4 separate regions of the Homo sapiens genome follow, and regions 2, 3 and 4 are each reported to be linked to region 1. The links are microRNA targets in miRTarBase. Many come from high-throughput screens and were not tested one by one. Region 1 holds a microRNA gene; each other region holds the end of a gene's coding sequence.

What was found. Region 1 holds the annotated microRNA hsa-miR-539-5p (GGAGAAAUUAUCCUUGGUGUGU, at 1,262-1,283, opposite strand). A microRNA usually pairs through its seed, bases 2 to 8, with sites in the 3' UTR of a target mRNA and lowers its output. Matches are read on the target gene's strand: a 7mer-m8 pairs with bases 2 to 8, a 7mer-A1 pairs with bases 2 to 7 and ends in A, and an 8mer does both.
Region 2: the mRNA of EDEM3 is a reported target of hsa-miR-539-5p. Seed matches in the 3' UTR shown: 7mer-A1 at 1,239-1,245 and 7mer-m8 at 1,471-1,477.
Region 3: miRTarBase lists STK11IP as a target of hsa-miR-539-5p. Seed matches in the 3' UTR shown: 7mer-A1 at 856-862.
Region 4: the mRNA of MTNAP1 is a reported target of hsa-miR-539-5p. Seed matches in the 3' UTR shown: 7mer-A1 at 1,976-1,982.

What each region holds. Positions count from the first base shown.
Region 1 is chr14:101,045,503-101,048,611 of GRCh38, reverse strand. MIR539 (microRNA 539) reads right to left here and starts at 1,291; the gene lies at 1,214-1,291. The region is part of intron 1 of MIR381HG (MIR381 host gene); the gene reads right to left. It overlaps MIR381 (microRNA 381), which reads right to left and starts at 2,692; the gene lies at 2,618-2,692. It overlaps MIR487B (microRNA 487b), which reads right to left and starts at 2,157; the gene lies at 2,074-2,157. It also overlaps MIR889. RefSeq lists enhancers at 1,846-2,346, 2,347-2,847.
Region 2 is chr1:184,691,656-184,694,655 of GRCh38, reverse strand. EDEM3 (ER degradation enhancing alpha-mannosidase like protein 3) reads left to right here. Exons shown (of 20, transcript NM_025191.4): 20 at 184-3,000. The coding sequence ends at 593. Among named protein-coding and RNA genes, the nearest start is that of EDEM3, 62 kb to the left of the region's middle.
Region 3 is chr2:219,615,561-219,618,669 of GRCh38, forward strand. It overlaps STK11IP (serine/threonine kinase 11 interacting protein), which reads left to right. Exons shown (of 25, transcript NM_052902.4): 25 at 484-891. The coding sequence ends at 633. It overlaps LOC124908064 (a long non-coding RNA gene), which reads right to left. Exons shown (of 2, transcript XR_007088701.1): 2 at 2,803-3,109. Among named protein-coding and RNA genes, the nearest start is that of SLC4A3, 11 kb to the right of the region's middle.
Region 4 is chr17:73,246,834-73,249,942 of GRCh38, reverse strand. MTNAP1 (mitochondrial nucleoid associated protein 1) reads right to left here. Exons shown (of 6, transcript NM_001351264.2): 6 at 984-2,702. The coding sequence ends at 2,602. It overlaps CPSF4L (cleavage and polyadenylation specific factor 4 like), which reads left to right. Exons shown (of 6, transcript NM_001129885.1): 6 at 1,407-1,494. The coding sequence ends at 1,449. Among named protein-coding and RNA genes, the nearest start is that of CPSF4L, 13 kb to the left of the region's middle.

The DNA.
Region 1 (3,109 bases):
TTCATATGCACACGCACACAAACACACACACACACACACACACACCCCAGAGGTGCTGTCGACCACAACGTCTTATTCCATGAGAGTCTGTCTAAGATGGGGTGGTTCCCAAGGAAGGCACGAAGCCATGCCACGTCCACCAAGAATAATCCAAATACCCAACAGGCAGCTGCTTAGGAGCTGCCAAAAAGTAGTAATAGTAACAGGAAATGTACGGAGTTTTTACTAATGTTTGCATTCCCTACAGGAAGTGTTTCATACTCAGAATGAAGGCTACAGATAGGAGAGGCTGGACCCAGGTTCCCCGGTCCACCATCTACCTAGAGAGAGGCTTGACCCCGGCATCTCTCCAAGGAATTCCTCGTGGCTAAGATTTAATAACAAGAAGAGAAAGAGAGATGAAATAATTGTGAACATCTTCCAATAAAAAGATATGGCACCAAGCCCCTAAATGGCATCTCCACCCCAAAGCTAGCATTTGTCCAAGGAAATCACACTGGTGGCTTGCATTCTGAGATCACTGGATTCATCATTATAAATCATCAACACAGTCACACTCCATGGTGGGGCAGGCACCAATGTCCCCTCACTGAAGTCAGCACTGTGCTTTCAAAAACTTCTGAAGCAAATTTGGATACTAAAACAATGGTTGTCCGATATTAATCATCATAAATATAGAGACCATACTACGGACAGCCATTCTTTAAGCACCAAAGAACTGTGCCATCAAGAAGAGCTGGGCATCTTCTCCAAAGTTGGTGTCTCTTCCAGAAAGTTCTTCTCAGGTAGTCCAAACAATGAGGATTAGCAGGTCAGCTTCACACATTGAGAGTCAAGCCCATGCCTGGGGGTCAGTCACACTCTTGGGCAGGGGAAGGGGGTCTGGCCCCAATGATCGGTCCCTAAGGTTTGCTTCATGTCCAAGAAGTGCCTCCAAGAAGCAGGATTTGATAAGTAGCTTGAATGCTGCGTCACCCACAACACACACCCATGGCCAATGCAAATCCCTGATAGCACCAAGGAGTCCCGTGGCCCCCTGCCAAGCGTGGCCCCGCCTCCAGGGTTCTGAGGTTAGGGCACAAGTGTCCCCACCACAAACCAACTGCATGCGCCCTCATCCCCACCCAGGCGTGAGCCCCTGGGAAGGGCTGATGCGTGCATCCCTTTACAGAACTTGTCATGGCGTCCAGGAAGTCTGCCGAGGCAAGATTTGATACTCAAAAAGAAATTGTCCTTGTATGATTCATCATAAATAAAGCGAACACACCAAGGATAATTTCTCCTCAAGTATGAAACAGCAGCACGGACCACCACCTCCAGGTCTTTGGCTCAAGGTTAGATGGTGACTGCTTCGTGGCAAACCCAGTCACACACTCGCTCATGCACACACACCACGCACACACAGGCATGCACAATGCATGCACCAAGTTTGACCTCTCTTTAAGCACCAGGGAAGCAAGATGCCATAGAATCCTCACTCAGCTTGGCATCCTCGCTCAAGACTCCTTCAAAGCGTAGATAGTGGCCGAGGTCAAGAACCCAGGGACTGTCTCTCTTAAGTGGAGCAAATGTTCTCGGCACCCCTGCTGACCCCCACTGCATGTGGCATTCTGTATCAAAAGCCACTGTGTGAATGGCTTAGCTGCCAAGCATCAAGAGCATCACTAGCCCCCATTGTAAACACCGTGTATGCTCTGGGCTTCCTAGTCCATTCCATACCCGATGAAGGACTTGACTTCCATGTTTTGACACTGTTCCAAAAACCCATGGAGAGATTTTAGTCATAAAACCACCACCACCACCACCACCACCACCACCAATGATAGTTTCACAGCACACAAGGGTCCTGGCTACCACCTACGAAGTGCCGACCACGGGGCTCTGCTCTGAGCCGTGTACAAGTCTTAACTCGTTCAGCCCCAGCAGCCCCAAGAAATGGACGCCAATGTGATTCCCCTTTGACATGTGAGACAATGGGCACAGCACGATGAGATCCTTGCCCAAGGTTGGACGGTTAGTAAATGTCAGAGGTGGGATCCAAACACAGGAAATCGAGCTCCAGAGTCTGCGCTCTTGATACTGAAAAAGTGGATGACCCTGTACGATTCGACATGAGCAAAACGAACAGGACAGGGATAACCACTCTCCAAGTACCAAAGGTTAGCACGGAAAAGAAAGCCACTGCCTTGGGTGGACTTGGTACGTCTTCAAGGCGCGGTCCTGGGGATGAATTAGATGCTGAGGGTTAGTGGACCGGGTCACATACCCCAAGCAGAACATGCACACTCACGGACCGAGTAACAGCAGGGACCACAAAGCCACTACCCCACACGAGCGCCACCCCAGCCATCGGCCCGGGCTGATGACTTCCCGCTCAGGAAGCAGGGACCCAGACCACACACATCGTGCATGCTTTTGGCCCCGCCCACACTGCACCAGGAGAGGGGATGTCCCAGAGGCCACTGCCTTCCCTAAAGTCATCCAGGTGCCCGTGAAGTCCTCTCTGTGAAGTGGGGACCCGTGAACGATTTGCCACACACAAAACGGATACACACGGTCATGCACACACATACCGCATCCCTTGCTGAGTGTGGACTGGGTCCAAGACAAGGTTTGATACTCACAGAGAGCTTGCCCTTGTATATTCCATGTCAATAAACCGAATATACAAAGGGCAACCTCGCTTTAAGTACCAAACAATAGCACTGGGCAGGTTCCTCACTATCATTCACGGGGCCGGCCTCCTCTCCCGGGGTTCATCCTGGCGGGGGAGGGGGTGGGAGATGCGGGATCAGCAGACCAGGTGGCAAACACCACCTGCCAGCTGTGTGCCCATAGGTCAGCTCTCCATCCCAAAGGGGCCAGGAAGGGGCAGACGCCAGTGCCCCTTCACCAGAATCAGCCTCTTTTCCAGGCATCACTCCAGATTAGAACTTGTTCCTGAAAAGGAGATCCACCCCACGGGCCTTCCTGGGCACACGCAGAGCTCAGCTTCTCACTTTCTATAGGAATTCCCTGGGGTGGGACCACCATCTCCTTCCCAGTGTGGGCACCTCTCCAGGAAGTTTTCCTAAGGATGCACTCAGCACCGAGGTCCCAGGCACTGGAT
Region 2 (3,000 bases), not on the chromosome of region 1:
CTATAGGAAAATGTGACTGCATAAAGACAGTCTTCATTTCAGTGCTGATGCTCACCTTTCTGCATTAACATGAGTCTCTTTCACGTTTTATTTCATCTTGTTGCAAAAACCAATATGCTTTGGAAAGTGTAATAGTACATTTTTTTAGAGAAGTAGCATGAGGTTTGTTTCTTTCTCATACAGATCCTGAAATGGAAAATGAAGAACAACCATCCTCTGAAAATGATTCTCAGAATCAGAGTGGTGAACAGATTTCATCAAGTTCTCAGGAGGTTGATTTGGTTGATCAAGAGTCTTCTGAGGAAAATTCTCTAAATTCTCACCCAGAATCATTATCTCTAGCAGATATGGACAATGCTGCAAGCATTTCCCCTTCTGAACAGACTTCTAATCCCACAGAAAACCATGAGACTACAAATCTTAATGGTGAATGTACAGATTTAGATAACCAGCTTCAAGAACAATCAGAAACTGAGGAAGATTCCAATCCTAATGTTAGCTGGGGTAAAAAGGTCCAGCCTATAGACTCCATATTAGCAGACTGGAATGAAGATATAGAAGCATTTGAAATGATGGAGAAGGATGAGCTATGACTTGCTAAACAATCTGTTGGTAGGTATTTAAAAAGAAAAGGTAAACTGTGTGTGGTTAATAGACATCCTAATACTAAGCAGGCTTTCTAATGGGAGGCTTTAAGTATGGTGATGAACAACCACGTTCTGACTGGCGTAGTTATCGTAGGAATCTGGAGCATGCTGTGTTAGAATTGACCTTGTTTAAAACTGTCCCATCAAAAATGGAAATCCACAGTTCCCCCTTCAAATGCAGCACTGCACCACCCTGCAACACCTCAGGCCAGGGAAAGATTACTGAGCATTCCTGCGAACCAGATTTCTGTTGTCTCTGGATAGACAAGAAACAAAATTCATTTAGTAGTGGAGTGGGGAATAGGAGTTTGGATAGCCTTCTAATTAAAGGAAGCTCGCCTTTCTTGGTTTTGGGGGTTAGAGGCTCTTTTGGGAAGATGCATCCGAGTATTGTGGCATTCTGATTATGCTGCCTTCACAAAACACTCTAAGTGACCTAAGTGGTTATGAAGCAAATGCATTTATGGTGAAAACAGTCTTTGCTCATTGCTTTCTCTTGTTTCATTTAGTGACAAATGATCAAGATGACTTGATTTTTTTTCCTTCTTAACAATGTCTTTTTTATTTAAACCAAAGGTGAAGCCAGTGTACTTTCTCAGTGAGTTCTCTGCATAAAGACTAATCAGTGGGACCAGGTAAAAAGGTCATATAATACATTGTGGAGATTGCTTACTTAATACTTCTGAAAAATGGAGTAAGGGAGAAACTGTAATGTTGCAATATGAACCTCCCATTGGGCCTTCCATAGGGAAAGCTGTGACTACTCTGAAATGGAACCTAGCATTATATCCTTGTAGGGTAGATTATAAATCATTTCCAGTTCATTTCTCTTAGAGGTGATTACCTCTAGCCATCAGCCTTACTCCATCCCATGTTTGGTATGCAATTTGAGCCACAAGGCTCGTATCGCCAACAGCTATATACATTTTGTTCCATTTTTCTGTCTTACAGAGCCATGATAGAACTGTGGTTAGTGAGTTAAAATTCCTGGAGTAACTACTGTTTTTCTCCTTTGAAACTTAGGTTTCTAAAGTTGCACCTAAGGAATCTGTCACATTTTCTGTTGAATCATGGTTTTTGTTTTTGTTTTTAACAGATATTCCTTCTGATACGGACTTGAAAATTAGTGTATGGTGACCTGTGTTTAAAAAAAAAAGTACAATACAACTACATATAGCTATATAGCTTAATGAGACTTCCACCCCCCCCCTTTTTTTTTTTGGTTTGTTGTTGTTGTAGTAGTCTGGTGCTGGCCACATTTAAGTCTTAAAAATTTTTAAATTTTGTTGTTGATGTTTGTAGACAGCCCTGTTGTTGAAATCATGGCTTTATTCATTTTATTTATTTTTTAAACTTGCCTGAATTTGTTCTAAAGGAATATTTAAGAGACATAATTTTCTTCTCTTTACCATAACATTACACAAAACTTTTTCCTAAAACACGGTTGTGAGGTACTGATGAGGTGTAAGTGGAGCTGTTAAAAACAGCAGTGCTGTATTGCAGTTATGTATATTCGTGTACAGTATGTTTAGATCCCAGGTAAACATATTCTTTTCTGAGAGGATAAATACCTGCATTCAGATATTCCAGGTAAATATAATTGAGTCAGGGAGTAGTAAATCTGATGGAGAATTCACTTTGGGGAGGGGAAAAAGAATAGTATGCAAGACCCTTATTGGCTTTTAATTATACCTGAAACCAAAATGGATATTTTTAGTCTCTCTGCATGTGAGATTTGGTGTAACAAGATAGAACTATAATATATACAGTATATGGAAGGATAGATATAGTGCTTTGTTCATTTTAATTGCAAAGCTGCCAAAATAGTTGAAGCTTAATTACTTGACTTGCCTTGATTTATAGGACTGGGGCTTGGAGAAAATGAGCAGATGTTCCTCTAAGACATCGATTACAGAAGCCTTATATACATGGATTTGATTTTGTATTTGTAGCTGAAAGTCACTGTTGTCTAAAACTAACTTTTCTAAGTTATCAAAACAACCTAATTTCTTTTCCAACAAGGAGAACTTAATGGCATGAAGGATTGTGTGACACATTGGAAAAGCCAGCTTACTGCCACTCTCTTCCTTTGGCCATTAGAGGGAGGTGTTGCCTTTCATTGACGCTTAGAAGCAAATTGTTCACTTGTTAAGAAAAGTAAATCCTTAAAAAAAGAAAAGGAAAAAATTTAACCAATTTTTCTTAATACCCAGAAGGAATTATACTCAATATTTCCCTAGTTAAGAAAAGAGGAGATAATGTTCGTCTAAAAAACTCCAACGTTGTAATTACAACTCTACATTCATTTACTTACTTGACATACTGCCACAAAGTAGTTTTTGAGTTCATTAAA
Region 3 (3,109 bases), not on the chromosome of region 1:
GGGAGCCCAGCCATTTAGCTGGGCCACGAGGCTTTCAGTGAGGTTTCCGGCAGCTTTGAGTTGGCAGGATTGGGCCGGTTGTATGCCAGCCGTTTGGCCTTTGTGACCACCACCTGAGGAGATACGGTTACTGGTCCTATTTACAGGTGAGGAAGCTGAGGCTTGGGGATGTTAACCAGTTTGCCCAGTCCAAAGTGGTGGAGCCGGGAATTGAATCCACAGTTCCCTGAAATTGAGCCCGCATCTTCTGTACAACAGGGAAGATGAAAAAGACAGGTCCTCTGGAGGCTTTCAGTAAACGTCGGCTGGATTCTGTTTACAAAGCTCAGAGTCAGGATCTTTTATGGGGAGTGACATGGGCCTGGGGAAGGGGAGAGGCACTGAGCCAAGGTGGAGACAGTGAGGCCTTCGCAGAGACCTCCCTTGTACCCACCCTGGTGTGGTCCCCATGAGCCTCGCCTTGCTAACTGCTCGGTCTGCCAGGTGTCCCGGCTGGAGAGCTTTTGGGCACTCCGTGTGGTGTGTCAGGAGCAGCTGACAGCCCTGCTTGCCTGGATCCGGGAACCATGGGAGGAGCTGTTTTCCATCGGACTCCGGACAGTGATCCAAGAGGCGCTGGCCCTTGACCGATGAGGGTCCCACGCTGACCTTGGCCCTGACCTCAGGAGCCACGCTGTAGACATTCCCTCTCCTGGTCTCTGGGTCTGGCTTCCAGGCTCTGGCTGTGGATGTCTTCAGCCTCTGGGTGCTGGCCAGTGAGGTCCCAAATGACCCAGGGCTTAAGGGAGAGGCGAGAGAATGATCTGGCCTCAGGGGACAGGCCACCTGGTCAGGAGGAATATTTTTCCTGCACTTTTTCTCAGGTATCAATAAAGTTGTTTCCAACTCATAGGTCATGTGTGGTACTTAGAGTCACTCATAAGGCCTGCAGTTCCCCTAACCTCTTCTGACAGAAGCTATCCCACCCATCACCTTTCCTGAATGGGCAGCTCCAAGCAGCCTTGTTTGTGCCATGAGACCCCATCTCCAACCCAACTGTGGTCCCAGCATGGGAGATCAAGTAGAGCTCCTGACCCACAGGCACACAGCCCCAAGCTGGCAGTGACTTGTCATGTGGCCCGGCATGGAATTGCTGCCAAACAAGTAGCTGGGCCAGATACGGTCCTGCTCTCTTGAACTTTACATGGAAAGTAGTGAGGACTTCAGGCCATCGCAGAGGGTGTCTGGGGAGAGGGTGTGTGGAGTTGAGTGGTGACCTCTGGTGCTTCCTGCCATTGCCTTCTCAGCACCGCCTCACTCAGCCTGGAGGCCTGGATGGTCAGCCCCACTCCCTCACCTCTTGTCTCCAAGTCTGGCCCCAGTGATTGGTTCAGGAATCCTCATGTGAATTCGTTTGGCTTATGAAGCCCCAGCGCAGGCATTTGACTAGAGCAACCAAGAAGGAGGCAAGTTTCCTCTCAGGGTTGCTGTGAGGATAAGCCTGGAGCTGCTGGCTGTGGGGAGGCGCTTTCCTAAAGTGGAACCATGAGAGAGAGGAAGATGGCCCAGATGGAGAGAGCAGGGCCAGACTCTGGGGATATCTTTGAAGCCCCTGGGTCTAGTTGTGCCCGAAGACAGAAACCCCTGTGACTTTAGGTAACATGATCTAAAAAAGAAGCCCTCCCCTCCCTGTTTCTATGGCTTAAGCTAATTCGAAGCAAGTATGAGCCACCAAGAGTCCCAACTAAACAAACCCCGACTCCAACTTGAGCTGGGCTGAGATCTGTTTCTTGTACCCAAGAATGAACACAATGGAGATCATTACAGCCACACAGTTGTGCAGAGAGGCTCTGGTTCTTGGTTCCGATTCTGAAGTGAGGCAGAATGATTAATCCAGCTCACTTTTTGTGTCAGGTCTATGGCCTTGACCACTTTGTGACCCGACTGCTTGGTGGGAACAGCAGTACTGGGGCTGTGTCACTGGGGCCTTCTACCTGGAAAGGATGTGGGAAGGGTTGCCTGGCCTAACCAGCCCACTACATCTCTAAATCCATGGGGCGAACTTTTTAAAAATGAAAAAGGGTCATTGAAAATCCTGTACTTTTACATTTATTTAAAATTATTTAAAATGTATTTAAAAGAATGTATACAGGAAAAAAATGTATACTGTACTTAAGAATGTAGAGTGAGTTGCTCTCATATGCCTGACCCCCTAACTCTAGATTCAAGCATTCTTACCCAATTTTTGTGTATCTGCTTAAAATCTCAGTGCATGTACACAATTTTCCCCAGAAAAGGGTAATTAAGCCATTCACTTCCATTTAGAAAAAAGATTGGCCGGGTGCACTGGCTCACGCCTGTAATCCCAACACTTTGGGAGGCTGAGGCGGGCGGATCACGAGGTCAGGAGATGGAGACCTTCCTGGCTAACATAGTGAAACCCTGTCTTTACTAAAAATACAAAAAATTAGTGGTGGAGGTGGGCGCCTGTAGTCCCAGCTACTCTGGAGGCTAAGGCAGGAGAATGATGTGAACCCGGGAGGCGGAGCTTGCAGTGAGCCAAGATGGTGCCACTGCACTCCAGCCTGGGCGACAGAGCAAGACTCCGTCTCAAAGAAAGAAAAAAGATGATTTCTAAGATTAGTTTCTCCCTGGCAGGTCTGGCCTGCTTTGGCGGGAGAGTAGGGGGGGAATGGTAGGAGTCATGGAACCGGCTAGTTGGGAAATGCTGGCTGGGGTAGAGGCCTCTTGGAAACAGCTGCAGAGGCTGAGGGCCCAGAAAGATCTGTGCAGAGGCCCAGAAAATAAATTCACCTACTTCTGTTTTGCTCAGAACTGCCCTCAATTTTTAATTGAAGCAAATTAAAACTTCCCAAAAATATTAGTCCACTTTCTTGGCAAGGTACACAGCCCCTTCTCAGTCAGTGATTTTGGACCATCTGCAAACAGGAGCTGGTACTGGTCCTGAGGAAGGCCTTTCCCTGGCCAGAGGCTGCCCTTCACACCAGGCCTGTTTGCAGGCACTTCCCCAGAAGCCGGGTCAAATCAGGCCATGGTGCAGATGGGGCAGAATAATCTCCAGTCATTCAAGGTGATTGGTAGAGAAGTGCGAGGCAGGGAGTTGGAAGAG
Region 4 (3,109 bases), not on the chromosome of region 1:
AACAGGTCTGGGTTGCACGTGGCAGCTCCTCTGTATATGGCTTCAGCTGCCGCTATCAACTGGCAATTAACTCAAATGGCTTTCTTTAGCATGACAGCTGCTTCCCTGTATGGCTTATTTAAATCTAAGAATATACTCTGTACCTTATGTGTGGAGTATTATGGGGCAGTAGATGGAATAAAATAGGCTTATCCTGGGGAGGTAAGGTAGTAACACAAAAATTTAACGGTATTACCATCTTTTAATGCCATCATGAAAGGCCAATACCAAGCAACTTAATCCACTGGGAAAGGGGGGGTAGTGGCTGTGCTGAGCCTTTTGGAATAATGGAGAAGAGCAATGGGATGTGTGAGGAAGAACTGGCCCCCCACCTTGGTAAAAAGACAGGTGCCTGGCCTGCCTGGAGCTGGAGTCCCCAGTCAGGGCAGTCTAAAAGAATGGAGCCCAGGAGTCGGGTTTTGGGGGGTTGAATGCCAGTTCAAACCAATGGGGGCTGCTATGTGATGAACAGCACAGAGCTACGTAGGCAAATCACTCTACCTCAAGCCCGTTTTCTTTTTGGAAAATGAGCAGGATAGCACCTACGCCACAGGACTGTTTGAAACTAAAAGGAGAAAACACATGTAAAAAACCTTGCATGGCACTCGGCACAAAGCAAGCCCCAGATGTTGGCTGGATCTGCCTGTGGATTGCAGTAGGGCCTCTCTTCCTCCGTTCAAGGTTGGAATTTATATATAGTATGATGGCACATACTACAGGCTTTAGAACAGCTGCTGTCAATGAGTTCCTACCATCACAGACGTTGCTGGAATTAACACATGTAAGACTTCTAATCTCACCAAATGTCTGCAAAGTAGGAATAATTATCCCTAAATTACAGTACAAAGGAGGCTCCAGTAAACTGGGTAACTTACCCAGGGACACACCCACCCATTTCACAGGTGAGGCTCTAGAAGAGGCATATAATCAGCTCAGGGGAGTACTTTTTATATTTTACAAATAATTTTATTATGAAGAGTGGCGGAAGTAGTATGTAGATGCCCCATAAAGTATAAAAGAGTCTGCTGATAATAAAATGATTTTATTTTTAACAGCTAAAATAAATTTTAATGTGCATTAGAAAAACTACACATTCCCAAGTAAACTCAGTCTTTCAGATATTATTCAGGATTAAACAAGGCCGCCCCGAGGTTAATCCACTTACACAGACCACGTGTGAGTTACAGCCGGGGTATTCAGGCATGTCCGTGAATATTCCCAACTTGTAGTAACAGAACCTTCAAATACGTCCTCTCAAGCATGGACAGTAGCCTGGGTGTCACCATGCCTCTTCTGCGGGATGGATGGGAAGGTGAATATGGATTACGTGTATGGATTCTCACGCTGCATTTGTATGCACCTTGCAGGAAGATTCGGGAATTCAAGCTGCTGCCTGGAAGCAAGATCTAAGCGTTGCTTCTTACCTAGCGGGGCACTCCAATGCCACAGACAGGGCAGAACACGACTTTTACCCCCTCCTTCTGCAGCATGATTTTAAGAGACAAAACTTATAAGGCTGTTTAAAATGGTAAATCATGTTAGAGACGTTCTTTTTCTTTCCTTGGCTCTGTGAAGAGATGAGTAGTTACCCCGCCTCACACCTGAAGCGTACTGGCTTCTGTGGGTAGCAGTCTTACTTGTCTACTATTCGTTCTGAGGAGTCTTGTCTTTCTGGATGAAGCTTTTAATCTGGTGATCACATACATGATTGGAACTGGCTGTGCAAATGAACTGATAGGAATTTTGCATACATGAGCGAAAAATGTATCCTCACGAGGCAACTTTACATCAGTATTGCACCCTGGAGCTGTGAAGTGTGCTTCCTCGTCATGCTGAGTTTGTTTAGATCTAAATCTCAGAAAATAATCAGCTATCAGTTTACCTCAACAACGCTCTTAAACTATTCTGAACATTAAGAAGAGATTCTTGAAGGACTTGAGAAAACATCTTCAATTATTTTCCCAACCCAGGTGGCAGCAATGAGCAGACAAGGAAGCCTTTCCTTCCATTACTCTGTAGACATTTACAAGTCATCCCAGAATGTGGAGATGTTTCCAATGGCTTCTTGAAAGTTATCCACACTACTGTATTGTGGATTCTCAGTATCTAATTCAAAGAAGTCAGTGGAGACTTTTTGTTGTTTCCTACTATATGTGAGTTAGAATTCTTGGTACTTACCAATGTCAAACAAAAAAGCTGTCTTCTTATTAATACAGGATCTCACCTTTGCCTTAAACTTGGCAATACAAGGCAGATATCCTTTTAGGACTCATGGATCATTAAATAGTTCTATTCTCATTAAATAACTTATTTTCAGGGATATAAAATATTTACTGTGACTAAGTTAAACCTTTTCATTATGTTTCAGCACCCTGATTATGACAAGTGATACTACTTTATTTATAGCAGTGATACAAATGCTCCTGATAACCTTGAGGGCTGAAAAGCTATCCCTTAATGCTACCACTACACTTAGGTGTTACAGGGCAATTCAGTGGGCAACACAGGGCACGAAGGCACTAGAGAGAAGTCACGAAGGCTTCTCCTACTTAAACGTGCTTCCTAATCCAAACATGTTTTAGAGCGGCAATCCCCAGTCGTCTTCGCCACACCAATGCATGGAGGTACTGTGCTCTTCCAGGGCAGGGGTCGGCACAATTTTTCTGTAAAGGCCAGATAGTAAATATTTTCAGCTTTTCAGGGCATATGGTTTCTGTCGCAACTACTCGACTTTGCTGTTGTTGTGTGAAACAGCCATGGATGCCACCTAACCAAATGAGCAGGGCTTGTTTTTGTACATTTTGACTACATACAAAAACAAGGCAGTGGGCTGGCTTTGGTCCGTGGGTCACAGTGGGGTCTGCTGCCCCTGCTCGAGGGAACTGGGGGACCGGGAAAGAGGGTATTACTGAAGGTCATTCTCATCTACCTTCTCACCTTGAGAGTTTCTGGTCTTGAGTAAGGACACATGGGGAGGTGTGGAGAGAATCCTTAAGCATCTCTCCTAAAGAGCATTCACAGAGAATGGGCACAAAGCTCTTTCGGCAGGGAAGATTGTTCTGGGTTCCAA